Regions from separate parts of the Homo sapiens genome. Here all the other regions are linked to region 5. Evidence: fine-mapped expression QTL. A gene starts in region 5. Each other region holds a variant in brackets. All regions are shown on one strand. Distances are from middle to middle.

Region 1 (5,107 bases), 23 kb before region 5:
GTTTGACTGGTTAGAGACGCTAGATTATTTTGTGTGGCTAAGACAAAACAAAGCTGGTGGGGAGTGGCAGGAGGTAAGTCTAGAATGGCACAATGGGGCCAGACTGCGAATGGCAAACAAGTATGTGATCTTTTATTCTAAAGAAAATGTAGTATGATTAGCACACACACACACAAAAATTATTGGCCGGGCGCAGTGGCCCATGCCTGTAATCCCAGCACTTTGGGAGGCCGAGGAGGGTGGATCATGAGGTCAGGAGTTCAAGACGGTGAAACTCCATCTCTACTAAAAATACAAAAATTAGCCAGGAGCTGTGGCAGGTGCCTGTAATCCCAGCTACTCAGTAGGCTGAGGCAGGAGAATCACTTGAACCCGGGAGGTGGAGGTTGCAGTGAGCTGAGATCGCGCCACTGCACTCTAGCCTCGGCGACAGAGCAAGACTAAAAATAAAAATGAAAAAATTATTATCCATGGTATTATCATGGTAGTACTGACTAAAAGAGGGACATGTGTAACAAAATCAGTAAGGAGGGTACTCCAAGAATCCATGTTAAAGTTAATGAGGGCTTGAACCCAAACATAAAGGATGGAAATGATGTAATAAAATACCTTTTGAAAGTTATATTAAAAAATTTTTGGTTAATAGTCTAGTTAGAGGTGAAAGAAGAAAGCAGAGGAGTCTAATGCAATGCGTGACTTGTAGCTCAGGTAAAGGGGTGGCAGGTGACGCTTAAATACTAGAAATATAAGAAGCAGCACAGGTTTGGTTTTATCTTTGAGAACAATGGAGTGGAGGTATGCTTTAGATGCAATTATTTATGGGATATTCAAAACAGATATATATGAAGCAAAAAACTTGGGCCCAAAAAACAAGTTTGAAGGTATATTTGGGAGTTACCAGTAATATAGGTAACTGTTGAAGCTCTAAATATAGAAGACAAACTAGAGGAGCTTGTTTCTTGAAGAATTCTTGTCACACTTGACATTTTTTACAGAGATTTCTTAAAACAGGGGCATATCTTCTTTGGCTAACATATGCAGACTAAAATGAAAGAGTATAGTATATTATAAAATCAATAAAAGGTAAGATAAATTTAGGCCTAAAAATAAAGAATAAATACACTCAGTTGATTCTGAAGCTCTAATTTACAGATGCAAAATTGTACCAGTACATTAACTCATATGTCAAAACAACATCTAGAGAAACAAAAAATGAAAGTAAAATGGAAAAAGATAAAAGAAGTGAGGCAAGGAGAAGAGAATGGACAAAAGGAGATAGGAAAAACAGGAATTTTTTTTTTAAGGGCTAAAATTTTAGTGAATCAGATGTGGAAAACAGTTGGATTAACATTGAGATCAAATGAGAAAGGAGCAAATAAGGAAAGAGGTATTACAAACCAAGAGTAAAAAAGGGAAAACAAAATAACAAAAGCAAAAACTATTTAAAAAGAATAAAGGAAGACGTGATAATGAAGTAAATTTAAAAAGTACGGAATAATAAAAAGAAATTGCAAAAAATAACTTTTGAAAATAAACATACTAATAACTTGACAATAAAGTGAAATGTGTAAGACAAACGTATCTGTGTCATTATTTAGGAGTAGTGAAAAGTACTCTTAAATAATAATTTGGTATCTAGCAGGCCTGGATTTGAATCTACTTTAACTTGCTAGCTATGTGACCTTGGGCAAGCAAAGAAACTCCTCATAACCATTGTAATAATACCAGCAAAATGCCTTACACTTACGGCTCAAAAAATGAAGGAAATGAGAGAAAAAAGTATAGATTACTATATGGAAGTCAAATTTCTAGTGACTTTTCTAATCCAAACATGAATTGTTACAGTACTTGAAATAAACTTTATGAGAACTGAGTGACTACATTGCTTCAGATAGTTTTATACTGCTAGGTCAACGCTGCCTGACAGTAATAAGAATAGGATGTGAGATTCAATATGCTCATTCTATCTCAAACTCTGTCACACATACAATGACTGCTATTTACCTTCCTCCTGAGCCATCTGGGAAAAAACCAACCAACCAACCAACCAAACAAAAGAAAAACCCACCAGGTAGGAGTCAGTTAGTTCTGCTAACTAACTAACCAAAAACCTTAATTGTATGGCCATCAGCACCCTAGCCCTTTGTCATGAAAGCTACCAATAAGGTGGAAATTTAAAATATGAGATATTTTATTATACATGTTTTATTAAACCCTATATGTGCAGAAATGATTGTCCATTTTCCTTCTTAACTTGCTTTTGTAAGACTTATTAAGTAGAAAATATAAATCTCAAGCTCCTTAAATGTGATTTTGAGGAACTGAGACCAAAACAATTTTTTGCTGTGGAACCAGATCCTTGAATGCACTACAGGAAAATATTATTTGATATGAAATTTTTTTGGTACACACAATTTTTCAAAAATATATCTCTCTCCACAAAGTTAATTCAAATTGTAGAATTCTTCCAAGTCACAGATGGAGTTTTCAAGGCTCTGGGTACTTACCTTTGAGTTCCACATCCTTTATCTCTGGAGCTCTTAACTGAGGGAACATGGACCATTAGGTCATGAACAGACTTTGTAGTCTTTGAACAGCCTGAAACAGTATGTGATACTTGATGTGCATGTACACAGGAACATTTTTCTAGAGTAATGGCACATACCTTTCATCAGATTTTCAAAGGTTTCTCAAAATGCTCAAGAACCATTGTTAGATATTTAAATAACCAGAGTGTACAGTGTCCAAATATTTCCAAATTTTGACACTTGTAAGATGTCTTAATTAAAACAAGCCATGAAGTTCAGCGTCACAATAACCAGAAAAGCACTTGTGAGAGTAGTTCTATGTCTTTACTTCCTAGTGGTTTACACACTCTTTAACCCATATGGCAATCTGGCTTCTGTCTCCAGTGCTCTGGAATTACTTCTGCCTGTATGATTAAGTTCCTCATTGTTAAATTCGAAAATACATTCTTTGGTATTTATTTGACCTCTTGGTGGTAATATAGCGTAAGAGCACAGACTCTGGAGCCAAACTGCCTAGGTTCAAATCTTAGCTCTATTACTTTCTAACTCTGTGACTTTGGGCAAATGACTTAACTCTCTCATGCCTCAAA[G/A]CAGAATCCTTTGTAAGGTTTATTTATATAGTGGTGTAAAGAGTACTTACTTCAAAAGCTTTGGTCAGTGTGAGAAATAAGCTCCTAACAAAGAAAGTGTTATGTAATAGTTATTATCTGGTACCTCTGATCACAACATTTTTGAAAATCACTTGAAATCTGCCTAAGTTTCATTCTGCCTTTGATGGCTCCTTATTTTCATCTCCCTACTTCAGGCTTCCTCCCTAATATATCTTTTATGCCAATATTATGATCACTTGAAACTATAAATCTGATGCCATCCTTGGCCACTACCATTAAGATGGTCTAAACTCCTCAGCATGATAGACAAGTCCCTTTATGATAGTGTACCCATCTAGTTCTCATTCCTCAAGTCTCCTCTGTTGTCTATGCTTACCCTATGGGCTAAGCTGAATCAAGCTGTTACATTTCCAAAATATGCCTCACTGTCTTTATTCATGCCTTTGCACATGCCATTGACTCTTCCTAGAATGCCCCATTCTCCTTCTCTAGAAAGTCTTCTCTTAACATACTTCTTCCCAAAATAAATTAGGTGTCCTTTCTTAATATGCCTCCAATAACCCCATACAGTATTTATCCCATTCTATTTTAGATGCCAGTTTGGTTGATGATACATTTCATCTAGTCAGATCTTCCCACTGCCTCTTATAAAGAAAACCAGGAGCCATATTATGATATTCTTGTTCTCTAATTTTTCTGCTGCCCTGATCTTAAACCACTTTCTTCTCCCTTTGTTGACAATTACCCCACCCCTTATTTCTTAATTAGCCCAACAAGATTAGATAGAAATGTATCTACAAAGGATATATGTATATAAATTAACTAGATAACAAAACTTCACACTGAAGTGAACATTCTACAAGTATTTATTTCATTGCTGACCATTAGGTTGCAGCATGCAACTCTCAACAATGAGCTGCCCCTCTCCACTCCTATAGAAGCTCCAAATACTATGGTACCACTATGTAGGTTTTCAGCCTTTCAAAGGCTTTTATTATTAACATCATCATTACTTCAGCAGGAGCCTTTTAGGGACTTAAAAGCACTGATTATCTATAAAAAGTAACTTCATATTTCATGCACAAAATTCCCAATTGGCAGATTTAGGTCCATAAAAGAAAGGAAAAAAATTATTCTAGTTATATAAATTATCAGGAATAAAATAGCATTTCTCCTTGCCTTGTTATAAGGAAATAATATATTTTTCCTTACCAGGAATCAGGATAGTATCTTTGATGATCCCTCAGGGTTATAAAATTGCTTACTGGTTAAAGTTTTTTGCCAAAGATATTAAGAAATAAAAAGTTCGCTCATTTTCCTGTGCAATTTAAAGAAATATTTGCAGTATGTACAGGAATTTTAAGTTATATTGCAGACCCTGGCAATAATATTTAAAAGGCCTATTTTCCCCATTAAAAAATTCTACCTCAGAAGGTAAAAGGAAATCTCCATCATCCCTGAGCAGAAAAGGAAAAAATCATGGGTACTTTAATTAGTTAATAGAAACCACTGTAAATGAGTTATCTATCTCCAGAACATTCTCAGAGAATTTACACGAACTAAAACAGGAATGAAGTGCTCTCAGAGACTTTTTCTCAGGTAAATGTATTTAGTAGTTTGAGTAGTTGATCTGCAAAAACTTTAACTTTAATTAACTACATAGATGAATATTTTTTATTTTGAAATTTGAGAATGTCCTAAGAGGATGTCTACAGGATATGAAACTACTGGGTGCAGGAAAATTTTTTAAATGTTAGCAAATTGTGGCAAGAGGAAAACAAACAGTGGAGAAAACTGTGGTAGAGAAAGTAAAGAAGGGGCAGGAGAAAGCTGTAATTATAACCTGGGCCTGCCTTTGTTCTCATGAAGCCAGGGGCCTCTCCATATCCTATACTTGCTCTTACGCTAATAACAAACCAAATGCTGCAAAATAAAAGTAATAATGACCCAAACTAATTTAAGTCTTTT
Region 2 (5,107 bases), 800 kb after region 5:
TCCAACCCCCCTCCTCTTAGATTGTTCTCACACAGAGGCCATCATTTCATAACATTGTGCTGGGCCAGAAGAACCATAAGCAGGTCCCTTCCCATACCAAAGCCGTAACTATTTTGGAAAAGCCTCCTTCATATTGCAGCCATTGGACATGATAATACATGTGATGTGCTGGCATTTGTTGAGAATCATGTGAAAATTAAGCTTCCACCCCATCACACTAACGTTCCAGCCCTCCACGGTTTTCTCCCTAGGCTAAGATAGAGAGGAAGAACATGAAATGTGCAGAAAGCATTCTCTTAAGCAAACGTGTATAACTTGCATAAATTGTAATAATTTCCTGGAACAGGATGCACCTCTAACCTCTACAGGCAAATCATAGATTCCATTGTCCAGCTGTATAATGAAAACAGAGTTCTCAGAGAAGAATACCGGAGACTCTCCCGACTTGCCTGAATCAAATTTCCAGAGGTAAGTGGTGAAAGGCCACAATATGAAGTCACTCTCAGATGGGTCCCTTCTCTTGCCACACTCCACTGTAGAAATAAAAGAGGACGGGGAGGCCAGAGCTGCTCAAAACCTTATAACCCACAATTCTCATAGCTATTCTCAACTTAGAGAGGGCTGCTTTCTAGACACACCCCCTCCAGGCCCCCAGACTGCCAGGCTCCAGGAATAAGTAGCTCTAAGAAATACAGTATTTCGGTGCGAGCCACACCCCACTCTTGCAAATTGGAGAAGAGAAGGACAAACTTAAAAGGTGAAAAGATTTAACAGAACAACAGGGTGAAACCCCATCTCTAATAAAAATACAAAACTTAGCTGGGCGTGGTGGCATGCACCTGTAGTCCCAGCTACTCAGGAGGCTGAGGCAGGAGAATCATTTCAACCCAGGAGGCAGACGTTGCAGCGAGCCAAATTTGCGCCACTGCATTCTAGCCTGAGTGACAGAGCATGATTCCATCTCAAAAAAAAAAAGAAAAAAAAAAAGAAAAGAAAGACAGAAAAGATTTAAGAGAACAATTATTTTAATTGAATACATTTTGTCAAGATTAAATCAACTTTCCCCTAGAATACTGAAAGAATAAGCAATCATAATTTAGATTCTAAGTTACTGGCCTTTGAGAAAGTGTGAAATCCAAAAAGATGCCGTGAGCCAAAAAAGAGCAAAAGTCCTAATTTTCAAACTTATGAAAATAAAGTACTAAATAATTGAAATCGTCGTAGTTCATCTTGGTCCTTGGCAAAATAAAAATTTATTGATTGAAATTATAATATACTAGCTACCTTATCGTGCCTAGCTCTTACCACTGAGGAGAAAAACCAAACGCAAACAAAAGTATGTTCAAATTGGCAAAAATGTTTACAAACCTGCAAAATCTCTTCAGCCTATCCCTTAAACTGCAGACTTGGTATTTACTAAGCTCTGCTGTGTACAATACCCACCTTAATATCCATTCTTGCACAAGTTCTGTTAGGTATAAGCCAAAATCACATGGGATTTTTTTTTTTTACCCTCTCATGCCTATGTTTGCTTTTGCTTCCAAAGACCCTTCTGAGTAAGGACTGTCCTCAGACTACTGGAGTCACTTAGTCACAAGCTTGCCTGAGGCTCAGAGCTGGCAATACCTGGTAGTTTATGTCAATCCCACATGCAACCCTGCCTGCAAAGTATTTACCCATGATTGACAGGTGCAGGTGTATGAAAGCCCAGCTCCTTGACTTGAGGGGTGCGTTTGTGGTGAATTAGCTTTGGGAAAAGGGAATCCAGAGGCCAACTTTGTAAAAATCCAGATAGGTAAATGGAGAGAAATCTTTGCCTTGGAAGTCCAGTTGAGAAAGATAGTGATTTACTTCGGACTGTGAAAAGAGAGACTAAAATCTTTACTTTCTCATGGGAAAGAAGCCTATGGTGAAAGAGAAAGAAAGAAAATGGTGGGAAATAGGGTAGGTCTACTCAGTAGCTTTAAACCATTCTGTCATATTATAAAGCCTAGTAAGGTTTTAACTAACACAAGTGCCTGGACTCTACACATAGAGATTCTGATTTAAATGCTTCCAGGTGGGTGGAAGACACTAGTAGTCTTAAAATGCTCCCAAGTAATTTTAACATGTAGCTAAAGATGAAAAGGACAATCTATCTACTAGAATGTCAAGTC[G/A]CCAGCATAGGAGTGTCCCAAATGTGCAGCTACCTCATAGAAAAGGCTTAACCCCACCCATTGATGGAATTTGCCTTCCTCTCTCCATGGTCTTGTTTGCATAGCATGGAAAAAAAGAGAAGAGAAAAAGAGGTAGACGGATAGATTGAACCTATAATTTGCCTATGTGGAGCAGTTTCTCAAACTTTTCTGACCACAAGATGCAGTGAGAAATACACAATTCTTTGTGATCAGTTTTTAAAAAATCTTTTATTATGTGTAATCCACCCTTCCTAGTATTTAAATAAAGCCTGTAGTAGTAAGCAGTCCACTATATTGATTTCACAACCCATAAGTTGTTCAGAATTGCAATTAGAAAATTTTTAATTTTGGCCAGGCGTGGTGGCTCGCACCTGTAATCCCAGCACCTTGGGAGGATCACCTGAGGTCGGGAGTTTGAGACCAGCCGGACCAACATGGAGGAACCCTGTCTCTACTAAAAATAAAAAAAAAAAAAATTTTTTTTTAAATTAGCTGTGCGTGGTGGTACCTGCCTGTAATCACAGCTACTTGGGAGGATGAGGCAGGAGAATTGCTTGAACCCTGGGGGTGGAGGTTGTGGTGAGCCAAGATTGTACCATTGCACTCCAGCCTGGGCAACAAGAGCAAAACTGTCTCAAAAAAAAAAAAAACAAAGAAAGAAAGAAAAAGACAAAGAAAGAAAGTAAGAAAGAAAGAAATTTTTTTTTCACTTTTGCTCAGCCTTTTTATCAAGGAAAATCCCAAAAGAACATTTACTGTAAAAGAACATTGACTATAAACATCTTTCTGTGAATCCTTATTTCTGTCCCAGCCACCATGACCCAATAATCTCTAAAACCTGTTAGTGTTCTCCAGATTGAAGCCTTCCCTCTAACTGCTCCTAAATCTGTGATGTAGTGGAAAAGGTTTGAGGCCTTGATTCTCATCCTGGGTTTTTCACCTACAGATCATATGGCCTTAGCCTCTTGACACCATTGTCTCCTTATGGCCAAAGATGGAACTGTACTTGGGTGGTATCTGAGCACCCTGTTGGCTTTGACATTCTAGGGCTCTTCCCTTGGCACCACTCTCTTATTTAAAAGGAATAGGATGTGGACTTAGAAGGGTTATTTCTCTGCAAACTATCCTCTCTTTCTTATGACAAGCTATTTCTGAATGTGCACATTTGAGGCTAAGCAAATCCCTTCCTGGGAGGTGTGAAAGACCTTTATTTCTCTCCAGAGGAGTATTATGGATGTGGTAGAGACCTAGCTAACTCATCTGCAGCGGCTTTGAGCAAGGCTTTTAGAACCATAAGGTGGCTGGGGTCCTGTGTCCTACACCACAGGCCAGCTAGTTCATTTCAGGAGACTTTCTTTTCAATCTATTATTACTATCTTCTTCTAGACTGTAGTTCACTACCAGAGATTATCCACTTAGCTGCACTCAGTTTGCACCTGGCCTGTATCACCACTTAGCTCTCACTCTAGCCTCAGTTAGGTATCAGCAAGACCTCACCAAAGATTATTGTTTCGTTGTATGTGCGTGTGTGTTTTTGTTTGTTTCAAGTAGCAACTAATGTTGGAACTATGGAAAGTTCTTCTCTACTTTTAACAAAGCTTAGTCACAAACAGTTCCCCAGTTGATGAGAAAAACTAAAACAACAGAACAATTGAAAGTCCAAATCTGAAAGCTCCATCTCTGAAAAGCAAATTTTATAGCCACTCCAGATTTGTATTCCAAATGGACAGTTTGATTGTAGAAATCACATCCCTTCAGTCTGCAAATGTGATAACTGCCCAAGAGACAATGATGCCTAGATCCATAAATAATCCCCTTTCCCCCAACCTATATATAACTGGAGTCAACAGCAGCTAGAGGAAAATGGCAAGGACTTGGAATCAAGATTAAGTTAGAATAACACTGCTGTAGACTGTTTATCAGCTCTTCAGCATATGTCCACTTTCCTTGAAGGATAAGCCTTTAGAAACCTCTGACAATAAAGTTTATTTTACACACATTCTCTTGCCTATGATTTTTTTGTACAAATCACAATTACAAAACTTTCTTGCTCCAGCTAAAAGCAGGAAACTCAGTCACAAATGTGTTCACTACATGTATACCACAGAATGATAGCAGCCAGTCTGAATGCATCACTTGATTCCAAAATTAAATGTTAGCACTCAGTAGTGAAACTACATGTATCTCCAACTCTGGAAGCCCCAGGCAAGATACTCCTGTTTCCTGCAGGGAAACAGATCTATAAGCAGGGCAGCAGTCTCACACATGTACATTCCTGGGAAACCCAAGGAAACAATGATAGTGACGCAGGGCAGGCGAGCCTCAAAACTGGTTTGTAGCCTGAGAAATTTCTCCCAGACTGTAGTTTCCTTGGCTTTGCCAAGGAAAGAATTCAAGGGCAAGCCGCTGGTGAAAGCAAGCAACTTTTATTGAACTGGTGCTGCTACTTGCAGAGCAGGGCTAACCCATAGGCAATGTGCCCAGAGTTGGTGCCTGTGGGCTGCTAGCTAGTTGTATTTAGACCCACTTTTAATTACATGCCAATTAAGAGGTAGGTTATTCAGAACTTCCTGGAAAAGGGGCAGGGAGTTTCCAGAACCATATAAAGTAACTTCCAGGCCATTGCCAAGGTGTGTTGCCATGACATTTGTAAACTGGCCATGGTCCCAGTGGTAGTGTCTTTATGCTCATAAGCAGTGAGAGCAACTAGAGGTCACTTTCATCATCATCTGCTGGTTTCAGCAGGCTTCTTCACTGCACCCTGTTTTGACCAGATCCTGCTCTGTTCAATGGTCCTTCTGGTCTCCTACCTCATTTCCCCATCAGAGATTATATACTCCTCCTTAATCTTAAGGGGCTTGCAGAAGGGTGGAGGTTCATCTTCTGTAACTGCTTCCTGCTGATGTTATGGGCATAGACCCTGTCTAGCA
Region 3 (5,107 bases), 190 kb after region 5:
TAAAGAGCCTCAAGTTTCTCAGCTACAACCTGGAGGAAGTGTCTGAAAGCTGATTTTCTGATGCCCAGCCCCAGGCCTCCTTTTCCACCGCACAAGATCAGACCTGCTTTTCTCTAAATCAGAATTAGGCACGCCACTCCAGATGAAAGAGCCCTGTCGTTGAAATGCCTTTCTTTGGCCCACACTAAGTATAATTTCTGCTCCCGTTTGAACTCAAATATCACATGTATATTTTAACAGCTGCTGCTCTCTAAGCAAACTGATTCACATAGAAAATCCAGGATTGTGACTACTTATTTTTTCCTCTCTACACATGAAACAGATTCCCTGGAAACACAGTTATCTTAAGTAGCTGGAATTGTCTAACTTCGGTTACTTTATTATTTACAAATCAGCCAGGTGAGAACAAGAAAGTGAAAAGCAGGAAACAAGATAGGCAGAGAAACAAAGGGCTCGATCGCAAGAGCAGCAAGATGCCTGAGCAGACCCACAGGGTTCTCAGGGCTGCAGCAAAAATCAAAGAACAGTCGTGGTCTCAGGACTCGCCATAGATCAGACCACAGCTTCCAACCATGCCACAGGCTGTCTGTGTGTTCCCTGCACACCATTCATTTTTGTCCTTCTATTTTAATGATCTGAAACCAAGTTTGGGCCATGTGTAGACAGGCCATTCGGAGGAGGCTTCGGGAAGGAGGGTGCATCTGAGACTAGTTGTAAAAGATGAGGAGGATTTCCACAATCGCTCGAAGGAAAGGGGCATTTCAGAAAGAGAGAAGAGCACGTTCACGTGAGCCCAGATAGGAGCACGGGGCACACGCAGGAAACTTCCTGATGCTGGAGTTCATGCGCACGGTGGACGCAGGCTTGGCAGCCCGCAAGGCAGAAGGGGAGGTGGTGCGGGAACCGTGGCTGCTCTAGCAAACTTGAGCTCCATTCTGCAGGCTCAAGGAGACATGGAGTAAGAGGAAGGACTCCTTGGGTGCATTGTTCATGGGAGGACAAATTAGAAAGGGGATTATCTCATGGCAGGCAGCCACTTCCAAGTAGGGAAGTTGGAGAACTTGTTGTCAGGTGGAAGAAAAGAGAAGACCCTTGAAAAGTCATCCAGGAATGGGTGTGCACAAACATGGAGTGTGTTCCTCATGCCGTAATTCTGATCCAGGTCCTTGACTTAACTGCATTGCCATTAAGCTTGTGAAAGGAGGGGAAAGCCGGTACCAGACATTGGTTATATGTCCAATATCTGTTTGACTCTTTGTTAGAGGTATTACCTAAGTTATCTTACAATACTCTAAAAGCAATTCTACAAAGCCCATTGCTATTTTACAGAAATGAAATCTGAAAATGAAGAGGGTCAAGTAAACTAAGAAGTCTACGCATAACTAAGAAGTGGGGCTGCCTGACCCCAATCCTGCACTCTTGGCTCTTTATGACTTCACTTGTGAGCATACTGAACTCAAAGTGTTCTGGACGTCTCCAGGTAGAGGGCTCTAGGAGGCAGCTGAGTACGTGAGTCTGGAACTTAGGAGAGTTCCAAGCAGGGCTGTGGGTGTGGGATGGGGTGCATGGGAAGGAGGTTGTCAAAGCAAAGCAATGCGCAGCTGCTTAGGGAGGGGGCACAGGAGAGTGGCCTGGCCCTTCTTAGATCATTGTCAACTCAACTTGTCTAAATGGCTTTTAAGACCTCAGTTATCACCTGTATTAATTCTGGCCTATGGTATTTTGCAGCTCTTCGGGAAATAGTGATCCTTTGTTTCTGACAAAGTTCTTCTTAAAGGGTTTATTGTCTTATTTACTAGGAATCATGGGGAATAGAGTGTTACACAATGTAATTTTTTCCCTAACAAATGAAGCTTATTTTTATAAATTCCAGGGCTTTTAATTTGAATCATGCTTAACTATTTTTCTATATTTTATTACATTGTTTGCTTCCTCCCTAAAGACAGTATATTTTAGTATTTTCACAGAAAAATGAGAAGCCCTCATTATGAACATACCTGATTAAATTGAGCATTTCCAAGTGATGTCCACATCATTGCTCAAGTGTTATGAGGCCACAGGATGAACTACTGCCCCCCGAATGATGCTAGAATGCTGTGCCTTTATTTATTTCATTGGACAACTCATTCAACATATATTTATCAAGTGACTCCTATAAGAGTAACTAAAATAGAATTTCCTGCTTTTGTAGACCTTACACTATAGTTGATTCCATAGTGTCTAGTGTTTCATGAAATTATACAAAATGTCACTAAATCTAAAATGCCATTGGTAATGACATACACTTTTTAATGCACTAATATTAAATAATGCTGAAATTAAGTTATGCTTATCTAATGTAAGATACATTGCAGTTTCAGATACTAAAATTTGAACAAGTAGACAAACGTTTCTCTTGAAATCAGTGAAATCTCTATCTAAATCCCTTAGAATAGGGTTAGCACATAGTATTCCAGGAAAGCAAAGCTCTAATTATTATTGTTGGATTGTACCCAGATTATGTTACTATTTAAGTTTCTACTTTATGTAAAGCACTTTTTCATATGGATATTCTTTATCCTAACAATAGTCCATTTGTTACACCAGAAGTAACACCAGATACTTCTGAATAATAATGGCAGTTAAATCTGTGGTTTTGTGGAATTTTGCTTATATACGTCACTGTTGATTCAAACAATATAGCAGCTCTAAGAACATCTGTGCCTCCAGCCTCTGCATTTCAACCATGAGAGCGTCATTTCTCTCCATGATGCTTAAA[T/A]TAAAAATCTAAATATTTGGTAAATTTTACGCTTTTCTAGAATATGTTTTGTTACTATTATATTCTAGTAAAAACAAAAAATGTTCTTAGCCTGAGAAAGATTTTACAGAAAAGCTTTAGTAAACATTACACTTCATAATGTACCTGTACTACACTAAATCTATAATGTACTTATACTAAAGAGTGAACTATATTATCTTTGAGTTTAGGAATAAGATGAGTAAATATGTAAATGTAATAATGAGAAACTATTAAAATGCAGTAGTTTCATTCAATATGATTATTTAAATAGAAAATCCAAAAATTTGTACATGAATTAAATTAATAAACAAATTCAATGAGTTTACTAGATACAAAATTCATTGTCCAAAGGAATTGTATTTCTTTACACCAGCAATAATGTTAAAAATAATAATTTATAAGATTAACTTCATATTTCATGAAAAGTGTAAAATTTAAGAATAAATTTAAAAATAGTGTACGAAGTCTTTATATACAATAATATAAAACTTTTGTACAATAATAACATCAAAATGAGGGGTGATATGTACTATGTTCATAGGTTAAATGTCTCACTTTTATAATAATGTTAATTCTCAAACATATTTATATTATGCTTGAGTTTGACAAAATTATATACGTTTGACAAAATTCCAATAAATTCCCAATACATTTTGTGGAACTTATAAACTACACAATAAAGGCCAAAACAGTCCTTAAGAAAAACAAGTTGAGAAGACTTGACATATCATGAATGATTTGAAATTTACAAATTTCAGAATTTTTCCCATTGTAATATAAGCATGTAATACTATCACATTTCCCCAAATGGCTACTTTAAGTGCATCCTACAAATTGTGATATATTCTGTTTTTGTTTTCATCTTTGTTCTCTTTGAAATACTTTCTAAGTTCATCTGTGACTTCCTCCTTGACTCAGGAATTTTTAGAAGTGTGTTGTTTCATTTCAGAACATTTGGAAATTATTTATTTCTAGTTTCATTTAGTTGTGCTTAGAGATCATACTGTGTATGATTTCTATTCTTTTTAATGTACTGAGACATGTTTATATAGCCCAGATTATCATCAATTTTAGTGAATGTTTTAAATGTGCAGTTGCTAACAATGTCTTTTATATTGCTGTTTAGTGGACTGTTTTAGAAAAGTCAATCAGGTAAATCTGATTAAGAGTATTGTTTTTCTTCTATCCTTTTGCTGGTTTCTTATCTCATTCTATTAGTTACTGAAAAAAATGGGTTAGAATCTACAATCTCCAACAATAACGGGATATATCCATTTCTTTTTTCTGTTGTATATTTCTTCTTTGTATATTTTAAAGATCTATTGTTGGGCAATATTTGGTATTGTTGTGTCTTCTTGTTGAATTGACCCTTCTAACATCATGAAATGTTATGCAATTCTGGTAACATTTCTTATTGTAAAACTTACCATTTCTGTCCAAATCTATGCCCTGTCCCTTTATAAAATAATGATGATAACAAATAATACATAATATTTATTGTTTTTTTATCTCCCATTTTTAAAAATTCTGGGGGTTTAGATTATTTGAATTTATATAATTATTGATAAAACTAAAATCAAATCCACCATCTTTCCATTTGTTTTCTACTTGTTCCATCTTGCTTCTTAATTTTATTTTTATTTTTTAAATTTTTATTTCATCTAGAGTTTACAATACACATCTTTAACTTATCACAGCTCTATGTAGAGTATAAAGAATGTACAGCAGGAGAAGTCAGTTTTTCTCTTCTGTCTTTGCACTACCGTTATCATACATTTTACTTCAAATGCATACATTTAACATGTGCCACAAATCCTATAACACTTTATTGTTTTTGCTTTAAATAATCAATTATCTTTTAAGGAGAAAAAACAAAAAATTTTTACATAATTTTTATATATTTCTGGGACTCTTAATTTCTTTTTTTATAGATCAAATTTTCCTTCTGGTATTATATTTCTTTTACTAAAGAAATTTTCTTTAACACTTATGTAGTGCAAATGTGCTAATAATGAATCAGCTCAGTATTTGTTCTGAAAAGTCTTTTTCTTTTTGGAAGACATTTTTGCTGGTTAAAGACTTCTAGGTTGGCAAAAATGTTTTTAAGTACTTTAAAGAACAGCTCTATAGTTCCTGGCCATTTTTTTCTTACTTACATAGATTCCGATGAGGAGTCTGCAGTATTCTTGATTGTATGTAGTGGGTTTTCCCCTCATGAGCTGTTCTGCCCCTCTCTCTCGGTTCTCTTCTTCTGGCACTCCAATTACATATACATTCAACTCCTTGACGCTTTCCCAAGTGCAGTGCTGGAGACTGAAGATTTAACTG
Region 4 (5,107 bases), 190 kb before region 5:
TCAAGAATAATTTTAAAGAATATGTATATGTTTATAAATTTGATAACAATAATATAAATATTGAAACCCAGATTATTTATACAAAGTCTAGTGAGTGAGTGAAAGCTATGAGAAGTATGCTAATTCCTCATCTTCGAGAGAAAGAAATCAATAAATACATTCTAATTTCTGACATTAAAAGTAGATAGATGAATTGAAGTCCTTTAAAAATTAAAAAAAAGACATAGTATAATATAAATTATCACACCATGGTCTGTCGTTCTCGTGGACCAATTTCCTCTTCCTAGAATGACAAGCATGTGGCTTATGTTCTCGCTCTTTCCTCTCCTGTCTCGCATGATATCAACATCTGGGTTGAGGACCAGTAAGGTCATCTGAGTCAAGAGTTCTTACTTTTCTCAACCTTACAGACCTCCGCATCCATTCCATATCACAAGCACGCTCACATTCTACACCTCTGTTACAAGACACTCATTGTTCTAGTCCAAGATCTCAAACTTGGTACTTCCACTCTCTGACTATAACTTTCCCATCTTCTTCCTTTCCCATTCCCAGCAGACATCTTACCTAAAGTATTCCCCACTAAAAACTGTAAGAGTAAACCCCTCCCAATAATCCACTTCATTAGCCAACGCCCTTTGAGCTGCCTTACTCTTAGTGTAGCCAAGCTCTATGGTCAATGAGATGAATAAAGTTTCTGTCTCCCATAACCCTGCGTTGTGTCTCCCTCGCTCTTCCTTTTCAGTTGTGCAAAATCTTACATAGTGATCTAAACCCATTTTGCCCCTTCCTTCTCCCCAAAGCCTACTTTTTCCTTTAACTTCCTCAATCTAGCTTCTTAGTCTTGTCTGTATTAAAACTGTATTTCAGAAAATTTCTAATGACTCAAATATTCTAATGAATATTTTGCAGTTATCATTTATATTTGAGTCTCCTGGTTGTCAGTTATTAATAACCATGGTTTGTTAAAATCAGTTCTGGGAATGTCAAAATAAGTAAGAGCAGTTTCCTGCCTTCCAGAGGCTGATAGTCTCTTAGGCAAGCTGAACAAATAACGCAGTAAGAGAAGTAAAATATTACAGGAGCTGCCACCAAGGCATGTGGAGTTGAGTTCAGGGCAAGCTTCTAAGGCTGTACCCTTTAACTTGAGGATGCTATCATGGCCGAGCTCTCTTCCCACCTCTCAAACCTCCCCTTTTCTCACTTTCCTTCTTTGGATCCCCTTCCTCGTCAATTTTCTGAAGTGTGGATGTTTCTCATACTTCGGGTCCAAATCCTCTGTTCTTATCACTCCATCCAATTTCCCTCACAGACTTGACACATTCCATGGTAACCCTGAGTCTCTCGTCCCTGCCTGTATTCTGAGCTCCTGGGTCTTACTGCTGCATGTTTTTCACTTGGAAAACTCATCTCCAACTTACCATCATTTCTACCCTATTTCTCCTTCTCTGTCAACAGTTCCCATCCATTACTCAGACTCAAAACAGAAGTTCACTCTTCTCGATCACCTTCCTTACCCCACCAAGTACTTAGATGCTTCCCCATTCCCACCATTGTTTCTTTCAAATTCACATTCACACACACCTTCTGCTTCCTAGTGTGGTTATGTGTGGACTTTCTTATGTCTTCCTAGTCAATTTTACCACTCTTAAAATAGGAATTTTTTCTTTGTGTCTCTTACAGTATCTAGCATAATATATTCCATGTAGTAGTTGTTCAATAAATATCTGTAAGTAGGTCCAATAGATAAATTATTGAACCTACTAACAACCGTTCCATGGGGGCTTAGAGAGCCATGAAGTTAAACTGGATCGTGCCTGTAACATAGCCAAGGCTACACCCTGAGTCATGGACTGCAGGGCAGGAAAGATCCTGCCTGCAGTCTCACCTCCTGCATGTGGGGCTAGACTATCCACTCGTCCTTGTTTCCACCAACAGCGCCACTAATCAACTCTGGGACATCTGGGGCAAGGGTGCTTCAGGTTAGCACTGTGGCAGTCTGCCCAACTGATAGGAAACCGAATTTGGGGTGAGGAGGTAGAATTCAGAAAACAGGCTTATTATACTTCTCACAATCAGGCTTACAGCAGAAAAATTGAAATGTGAGACATATTTTCCCATTCCTCCATGTAGAATATAAAAGAGAGCAGCTTTGAAATACCATATATAATTAAGTAGTATTCTCTCTCAATCAAAAAACCTCCATCCCTATAGTCCTAAAAAAAAAAAAGTAGAAAAATGGTTGTGAGAAAAGCCTTACTCTAGAGAATAATTCATCACCAGCTAGAGGCTAGACTGAGACAGGAAGATCTAGCTCAAAATAAAAGCACCATCATGAAAATCTCCATTCCCAGACACAAGGAGCTCATGCACCACCTCTGGCAAATGTACTTGCCAACTCACATCAAACATTTTTACTGAATTGGGAGCACTGACAGCAATGAAAACCTCCCCCAGCTCTTGAGGCTCATCATGCTGTAAAGGAGAGCTGAGAGAAAGTGTGGTCAGTTTTCTTTGACTCATATCCACCTAACTTCCATTGTTCACTTCTGCTTCATGTCCCAGAGCACTATTCCAAGCCCATGCTGAAATTATATTTCTGGATTAATAACAAGCACAAGAAAATAAATCACATCTGCCCCAGAAGTGAGCCCAAAGTCAAAAGCAGCCACAGAGAGGAATTTGTGAGTTGAGCTTAGGGTCAACTTTAATTCTGAAGGAAATGAACCTTTAAAAAGAAAATTCAAATAACAGTCTATGTAGACAAAACATTAATCTACACTGCTCTAATAAATTTTGGGCCCTTTAAAACCCTTTTTTCCTTAAATGGATATCTGCCAGAGCAGAACTTCTCTGATAAGATGGCCTGAGGCCAAATACAGTATAATAAAGACGTTTGTGCTCTATCTTCATCCAACCATCAGGTCTACTTCTATTTCCTAAAGGAATATCCAGTATTCAGGCTTATCCCTATAAGACACTTCCCTATAAAGAAGTAAATCATCTCCCCACACCCACTCCCTAAGACCAATTTCTTTTTTCCATCTGAGCTTAAGCTAGTCCACAAGAGTGGTAGTTTTTGAAGGCACAAACAAACACTAATTAGACAGCCACAGTAGGTAAAAACGCCT[G/T]TAGTGGGGTATATAACACAGTTCTGCCCACAGGCCATGGGGAAACCATCTATTCCTCTACTTCAGGGCTAGAACAGATGCTTCTACAAAGCAGCAGCAATGGTAATACCTACAGACCATCTTTGCATCTGAAGTAATGCTGTCCAACTGAAATATAATGAGAGTAACAGATATAATTTCAAATTTTCCAGTGGCTACTAAAATATTTAATGGTAAAAAGGAATAGGGGAAATTAATTTTAATATTATGTTATATTTAATTCAATGTACCAAAATGTATTATTTCAGCATCTAATCAATATTTAAACATTATTAAAAAGATATCTTTTTTTCCATATGAAGTTCTTTTTTTTTTTTTGAGACAGGTTCTTGGTCTCACTCTGTCCCCTAGGGTGGAATGTGCAGTGGCGTGATTAGCCTCCCAAGTGACCAGGACTACAGGTGCACGCCACCACACCCAGCTAATTTTGTATTTTTTGTAGAGACAGGGTTTTGCCATGTTACGCAGGCTGTTCTCAAACTCCTGGGCCCAAGAGATCCATTCATCTCAGTTTCCCAAAGTGCTGGGATTAGAGGCATGAGCCACTGTGCCCGGCCATACTAAGTCTTCAAAATCAGTTATTTGACAATTACAACACATCTCAATTCACATTAGCCATATTTCAGATGCTCAATAGCAAGATGAAACCAGGGGCCACCATATAGAATAGGATGAATTTAGAATGTTTAGCATAATAGCTGTTGGCAGAACAAATGAAAAAATAAACTTTTTATTGCATTTTTGATTGTTTCAATATCCCAAGAAAGAGATAATAGCAAATGAAGGCTTCTGAGAAAAGGAGGCTGACAAATTTACCCTAAATCAAACCATGAATAGAGCTGGAATTTATGCTCATCTTGAAGTGTAGAACTTGCTACAAAACACCAAGCCTTTTATGTATATGTAGTTACAAAACAAAGCCGTAACTATCAGGTTCTTCTCATTAAAAGCATGGCAAATTTCCAAATCTCCATTTATTTAAAATTAATGCCTATCTTTTTTCAGCCATATAGTCTTATCCATTCTTTTTCAAATAGCTGGCAACTTCATTTCCTTCATTTTCTCACCTCACTACTCCAACCCCTCCTTTTTCATTTTGTCAAAAGCCAGACCAAATAGTTAATGCTTCAAGTCTACAGGTGGAAATTGTAAAAGGAATTCTGAACAAAGTTGCAATAGGCTATTAGGTATAGTGAAAAAGCATCAGACTGAATCTAAAGCATACACATAATGTTAACTTCTAACCTCAAAATAACCAGCTAGGTTCTTAAAAAGGGAAAACACATGGAGTAAATCACCAAATCTCAGGATAATGAAATTTTCAGTCTATTAAAAAACACCCCAAGTTCTTAAAATAAAACAAGATAATTTACAAAATCAATTTTATATAGAAAAAAGACTACAGATTTGAGCAAAGATTTGGAGTTCAACAAGCCTAGATTCAAACCCTAACCCAACCACTACGGGTCTTGGGCAAATTATTTAACCCTTTTGAATACGCATCATCATCTGAAAAAAGGATATTTAAACTCTATCTCTAATACAGTTATTGCAAAGATTACACAGATAAAACATTGTAATTAGCACAGTATTTGGATGCTAATAAACATTAGTTAACTCCTACTAGATTCCTGCTCCATTCACTTCTTTAATTTGTGTAACACAGAAAAGACTAATCTGAATTTATACATCTAATATCAGTAGAAACAGAAGCCCTATGACACAAAATTTTCCTTCTGTTTTTCTCTTTACAATAGGATAGGGGCTGGGATGGTAAATAGCTCAGCTACATGCTACTGAGAACAAAGGTCTGTAAGGAGTGCTAGTAACTGCTGTCATCAATAGTCCAACCGCCCCCATAACTCGGTACATCCCTCACATCAAGCATATAATAATATCAATACAAACGTGGTAAGTGTTATTACAGGAGAATACAT
Region 5 (5,107 bases):
AGATTCAGATCTTTACAGACATTAAAAGTTTAGGCAAACTTTATTATTCAAAGTCAAAATTCCTAAAGGAAAATACTATGGCACTACAATCACAAAAATATTTGTGTGTAAAATTTCTTTCCTTGTCAATTAAACAAAGCATCCCATCTTGATAAACCAATATGAAACCAATACCAAATTTATAATTAAAAAACAATAAATCAATTAATTTTTCAATAAAGTATCATGGCAGAGAGTAGGGGCCACTAATATTAAGTAGACTTTCAAGTTCACTTTGTATTCTTTGCTAACACTGGAATTCAATGCAATAATTTAAAAATTGACCAGATTCCATCCCCCCTACCCCCAACACACAGCCACCCACTGTAGGAAAACTATTTTTTAGTCAAACTACACATCCTTCAAGGATATTCCCCTGCACTATCTACTTTGTTCAAATCATATTCCTAGGTTCATTTGAACAATTACACTCCTTCTGCAGGATGGTCCTAGAGTATTCCTGAAAAACATTTCACATTAGCAAATCGGGGTATGTTAAATTGTTCACGGTTTATTTCAAAGATTAGACTTTGTTTTTATGTAATGAATAGAATATATTTCACTTAGCATGACCTGCAACTTTATTATCTGTATCACCACTCTCCTAAAAGTGAAAGTAACTATATTTCCAAATCAAACCTAAAAAGGCATATAACCAAATAGAATAATAGTTCCTTACTACTGGATCCTACTGTTACCTTAGTGTCATACCTTCTGGGAAGACTTTCCTGATTTCCTAAAACCAACTTAGATATATTTTCCATGTTCAAGCACAAAACCCTCTTCCTTCTCCTTAGCAGTTAAACTACATTTTAATAGTTTGTTGGTTATCTGATTTTTCCACTAGACTGTAAGCTCCACAAAGGTAGAGACTGTGTACTCTAACTCCCTGCATTAACACTATGCCTGGCACATTTGATGTGCTCAGTAAAAATTTTTTGCATTAATATATGAATGAAAAGTCCAACAGAAGAAATGTGCAAACTATTTTTTCAATATCTCATCTTTTTTTAAGGCTCAAGGTTTTACTTAGACTGTATGGAAAAGTAAAATAAAATTGATCACTTTAAACAAATTATATAAATTCCATTCTCAGCTTTGTCTTCAGAACCTCCCAAGCTTGCTCCAGAAACTTGTCTTACTTCAGAAATTTCCACTGTGTTTCTAAAACACAAAACATCTTTCTTTTAAGACATCTGGAGTTAGTGCTGTTTTTAATCAATTCAGTATACTTTTGAGCACCTACTAGCATAAAGCAGCTATTGTAAAAGGTATGGATAACAAAGAGATGATTAAGACCCGTCGTTTGCCCGCTAGGAAACTCAAGTTATTGAAAGACAAAGAAAAAAATAAGTTACAATGTATTGCAGGAATGTGGTACGGCGTATTGGAGAAGGTGGGAACTGGGGATAATCCTGAAAGAATGTGATGTACTGAAATTTAACAGGTGCTTTTATGTGGCAATATTACCTCACCCACTTTCAAAAGATGTCAGCAAGCTAGGTCAAGGATCAGGTGCCACGTTATAGACTTGAAGAACTTGGCTGATTTTTTCCCAGGATTTATCCATCAGCAGTCCTATTAGCAGCAGAAAATTAGAAATCCTGAATTTTAACAAAGTCCCTAAAGAGTCAAAGAACACTGGGTGATCACAATCAACCAAAGCTACCACTTCTCCAGAGCGTTTTTCTAAAGAGAAACAGCTAACACAAAAAACTTAACTCCTCCTTCAGGAAAGATTTCCTCTTCGCCGGTAGTCTCTCCTACACCAAAAGATAAAAGCGCACTTCAGAGAGGTCGGGAGTGCCCGGGAAGTCACAAAGGTCTCCCGGTCCTAGGAAGGAATCCGATGCTGAGGGCAAAGCGCGCTGACAGAGACTTGGGGTCGCGGGTCGTGAGTAAGCAGCTCACCTGTTCGTCCTCCTGCATCGAGGCGGCCAGCGGGAGCCCGTCCGCCACTCGGGCGATCATTGTTAGCAACACCATCTTCACAAACTACAGGGATCCAACACTGGCCCGGAAGGCCCTTGGCGCCGTCCTCACTTCCTCCGCCGCGACAACAGTTATACCCTATGTCTCAGTTACCGGAGATCCAGCTGCTTGCGTCTCCGCTTCCCGCTGAGGTGGCCGGAAACAGCGCAAGAGCTTTCCACTACCGGTCCCCAGAATTGGCTTCCCTCAGAGAACCACAACTATCAGAACACTGGTTCCGCGATCTGCCTTCCACCTTCTTAACTTCCAAGGTCTGGCTGGGTTTTCTGAATTTGAGGCTTCGAATAAGCCTCGCCCTTTGAGCGGCCATTGCACCCAAGCTGAATCAGAATTTTCTAGTTCCTGAAACTAAGTCTTGGGAGAGAGCTGGGAAGGAGGGTGGGAGTTAATGGGTAATCCCCATTAACCACTAACCGTTAACCATGAAGGGTATGTAAAAAAAGGAAAACCCTGAAAATTAGGCTATTTTCATATTTATTTTTTTCTGTTTTCTATGTCATATATTCTATAAAATGTTCTATATTTATATATTTCTAGACAAAGATTTTTGTCTATTTTTGCTTGTTTGTTTATGCGGTATCCCCACCAGGCTCCTTAAACAGTTTATGGTAAGAAGTCAATAAATATGTGTTGTATGTGTGAATAAATGAACAAGTACAGGACATCTTGTACCACCTAGGTCAGTCACCTACAAAAAGCTAGGATCAGGCCGGGCGCGGTGGCTCACGCCTGTAATCCAAGCACTATGGGAGGCCGAGGCGGGCGGATCACGAGGTCAGGAGATCGAGACCATCCTGGCTAACATGGTGAAACCCCGTCTCTACTAAAAAAACACAAAAAAATTAGCCGGGCGCGGTGGCGGACGCCTGTGGTCCCAGCTACTCACTCGGGAGGCTGAGGCAGAATGGCGTGAACCCGGGAGGCGGAGCTTGCAGTGAACCGAGGTTGCGTCACTGTACTCCAGCTTGGGCAACAGAGCGACACTCTGTCTCAAAAAAAAAAAATAAATAAATAAATAAATAAAATAAAAACTAGGATCTCTGATATATCTAGGTGTTCCCATCTCTTTGTTTTTTGGTGTCCCCATCTCTAAAGTGGGGATATGATCGGCCTTTCAGGGTTTTAATGAATATTAGATGAGAAAATCTAGGTGCAAGGCTTTCAAAAGCTAAAAAAAGAATTATACAAATGCTTTTATTTATCATTGCTTAATAATGACTACTCTTTACTAAGTGCTTACAGTTAGTTCTCGCATTAATAGAAACACTGTTAAGTATGTTCTAGATATTAGTTAAGCAACCCAGTAAGCTTGTTTAGTATTATATCTCCACTTTGTAGTTGAGAGGAAAGCCTCAGAGAGCTAGCAGTGATGGGAACAGGATTTGAGCTCAGGTTCAACTTCAAATCCTGATGTGATTCTGTCTTAACTTGTACCCATTAATTAAAGAGCTCAGGCTTTTGTTACCTTTTATATTGGCCTTCAGGATTAGAAGAAAACCAATATTATTTTTGTGTGGCATTTTCTTTATTAAAAAGATTCTTATTTCAATAGCTTTTGGGTTACAAGTGGGTTTTTGTTACATAGATGAATTATATAGTGGTGAAAGCTGAGATTTTAGTGCACCCATCACCTGAGTTGCGTACATTTTACTTAATAAGTAGTTTTTTAACCCTAGGTCCCTTCCCACCCTCCGCCTTCTAAGTCTCTAAAGTCCATTATATCACTCTGTATACCTTTGTGTACTCATAGCTTAGCTCACACTTAAGTGAGAACATACGGTTTTTGGTTTTCCACTCCTGAGTTACTTCACTTAGAATAATGGCCTCCAGCTCCATCCAAGTTACTGCAAAAGACATTATTTCACTCCTTTTTATGGCTGGGTAGTATTCCATGGTGTGTGTGTGTGTGTGTGTGTGTGTGTGTATCACATTTTCTTTATCCACTCATTAGTTGACAGGCACTTAGGTTGGTTCCACATCTTTGCAATTGTGAATTATGCTGCTAAGAAAAGTAATATTATTTAATGATAGACTTTTGAGACCAAAACCCAATAAGACCTAGTGATTGACTCCACATGAAAGATGAAGGACTACAATAAATAAGACAAAAAAAATTGTGCTATTAACAGAGACAGAAAGTGGAATGGAAGTGAATCCTTGTGTATATGGGAGTCTAAGTTGGTAGAATCATAGTACCTTACATTTAAAATAGCCCATAGATATAAGTTGTTCTAATTTCCCTTCCTTCCACTCAACAAGGACATGCCTTCTCCACAGCCTCAAATGATGGTCATTTGAGTAATGGGGAATTAATGCTACAAATATTTTAACTAAGGATACAGACTGCCATGTTGATTAGAGAAGCAGAGAGAGAAGAATGCAGGTGTGTGCCGAGAAGCAAATTCGGAGCAAGAATCCACATCTTTTTTCAGTTCCTGACTCTAGGCTCCTCCCAAGGCCCATACACATTCCTGCCATTGGGTTCTATCAAACACTATTGCTTCTTTATAACAAATTCCCTCTTTATCCTGCTTAGGCTACTTTGAGTTAGTTTGTTACTTAAAAACCAAAACACACACACACACACACACACACACACACACGCAAACTAATAAAAGCATGGAGTCACCCTGGAGCAATTATTTCTTGGAACAACAACATTCATACTCACACCTCTTACTTTTATCCTTTGTAAACACACTAGATGACTCTGGCACCCTTCGAACACATTGATTCCAGGAAAAGGATAGTGATCTTAGGCTGCTAATAATTTCAGCCATCAGGAGAAAACTAGAGTTGTCTTGAAACTGCCCACTATTCAGACCTTGGGAGCTCTGGCATCTGAATTCCTTTTCCTTCTGACTTGATCAGCTTCATCTCATTCACATCCAAGTGTTGTCTTTGAGCTGCTGCCCTTTGATTCTTGGAGCAATACAGTACTGTGTAATAATGGTTAACACTGTGATCAGTAAGTACATGGAAGGTTCTCAACTATTTTACATTTAATTAAACAAGAGTATCAACAAACATTTGTACCGAACTTTAAAATTTATAAAGCCCACATATGTCCTTTGCC

Alleles and levels. Alleles are on the strand shown, and positions count from the first base shown. SD is a standard deviation of normalised expression in the study named. Not every link is listed here.
As copies of G replace A in region 2, the expression in whole blood of the gene that starts at base 2,164 in region 5 goes down (large effect, 0.95 SD a copy in GTEx).
In carriers of allele T in region 4, the expression in whole blood of the gene that starts at base 2,164 in region 5 tends to be higher than with G alone (large effect, 1.3 SD a copy in Lepik 2017).

The links. PIP is the estimated chance that this variant, and not a neighbour inherited with it, causes the effect. A credible set is the group of variants that fine-mapping cannot tell apart.
Region 1: its variant is the best candidate, but not a certain one, in a credible set for the expression of SEC22B in whole blood (TOPMed, PIP 0.56).
Region 2: its variant is the best candidate, but not a certain one, in a credible set for the expression of SEC22B in whole blood (GTEx, PIP 0.70).
Region 3: its variant is the best candidate, but not a certain one, in a credible set for the expression of SEC22B in esophagus muscle (GTEx, PIP 0.70).
Region 4: its variant is the best candidate, but not a certain one, in a credible set for the expression of SEC22B in whole blood (Lepik 2017, PIP 0.66).

The regions. Positions count from the first base shown.
Region 1 is chr1:120,151,217-120,156,323 of GRCh38, forward strand. SEC22B (SEC22 homolog B, vesicle trafficking protein) reads right to left here. Exons shown (of 5, transcript NM_004892.6): 5 at 1-5,107. Among named protein-coding and RNA genes, the nearest start is that of SEC22B, 23 kb to the right of the region's middle. The variant G/A (reference allele first, on the strand shown) is at 3,119.
Region 2 is chr1:120,977,107-120,982,213 of GRCh38, forward strand. No RefSeq gene overlaps it. Among named protein-coding and RNA genes, the nearest start is that of RNVU1-4, 37 kb to the left of the region's middle. The variant G/A (reference allele first, on the strand shown) is at 2,157.
Region 3 is chr1:120,359,851-120,364,957 of GRCh38, forward strand. No RefSeq gene overlaps it. Among named protein-coding and RNA genes, the nearest start is that of NBPF8, 53 kb to the right of the region's middle. RefSeq lists an enhancer at 355-916. The variant T/A (reference allele first, on the strand shown) is at 2,759.
Region 4 is chr1:119,979,726-119,984,832 of GRCh38, forward strand. The region is part of intron 5 of NOTCH2 (notch receptor 2); the gene reads right to left. Among named protein-coding and RNA genes, the nearest start is that of ADAM30, 86 kb to the left of the region's middle. The variant G/T (reference allele first, on the strand shown) is at 3,132.
Region 5 is chr1:120,174,357-120,179,463 of GRCh38, forward strand. It overlaps SEC22B (SEC22 homolog B, vesicle trafficking protein), which reads right to left and starts at 2,164. Exons shown (of 5, transcript NM_004892.6): 1 at 1,951-2,164. The coding sequence starts at 2,025. RefSeq lists enhancers at 1,286-1,851, 1,786-2,155, 1,852-2,417, 2,196-2,325.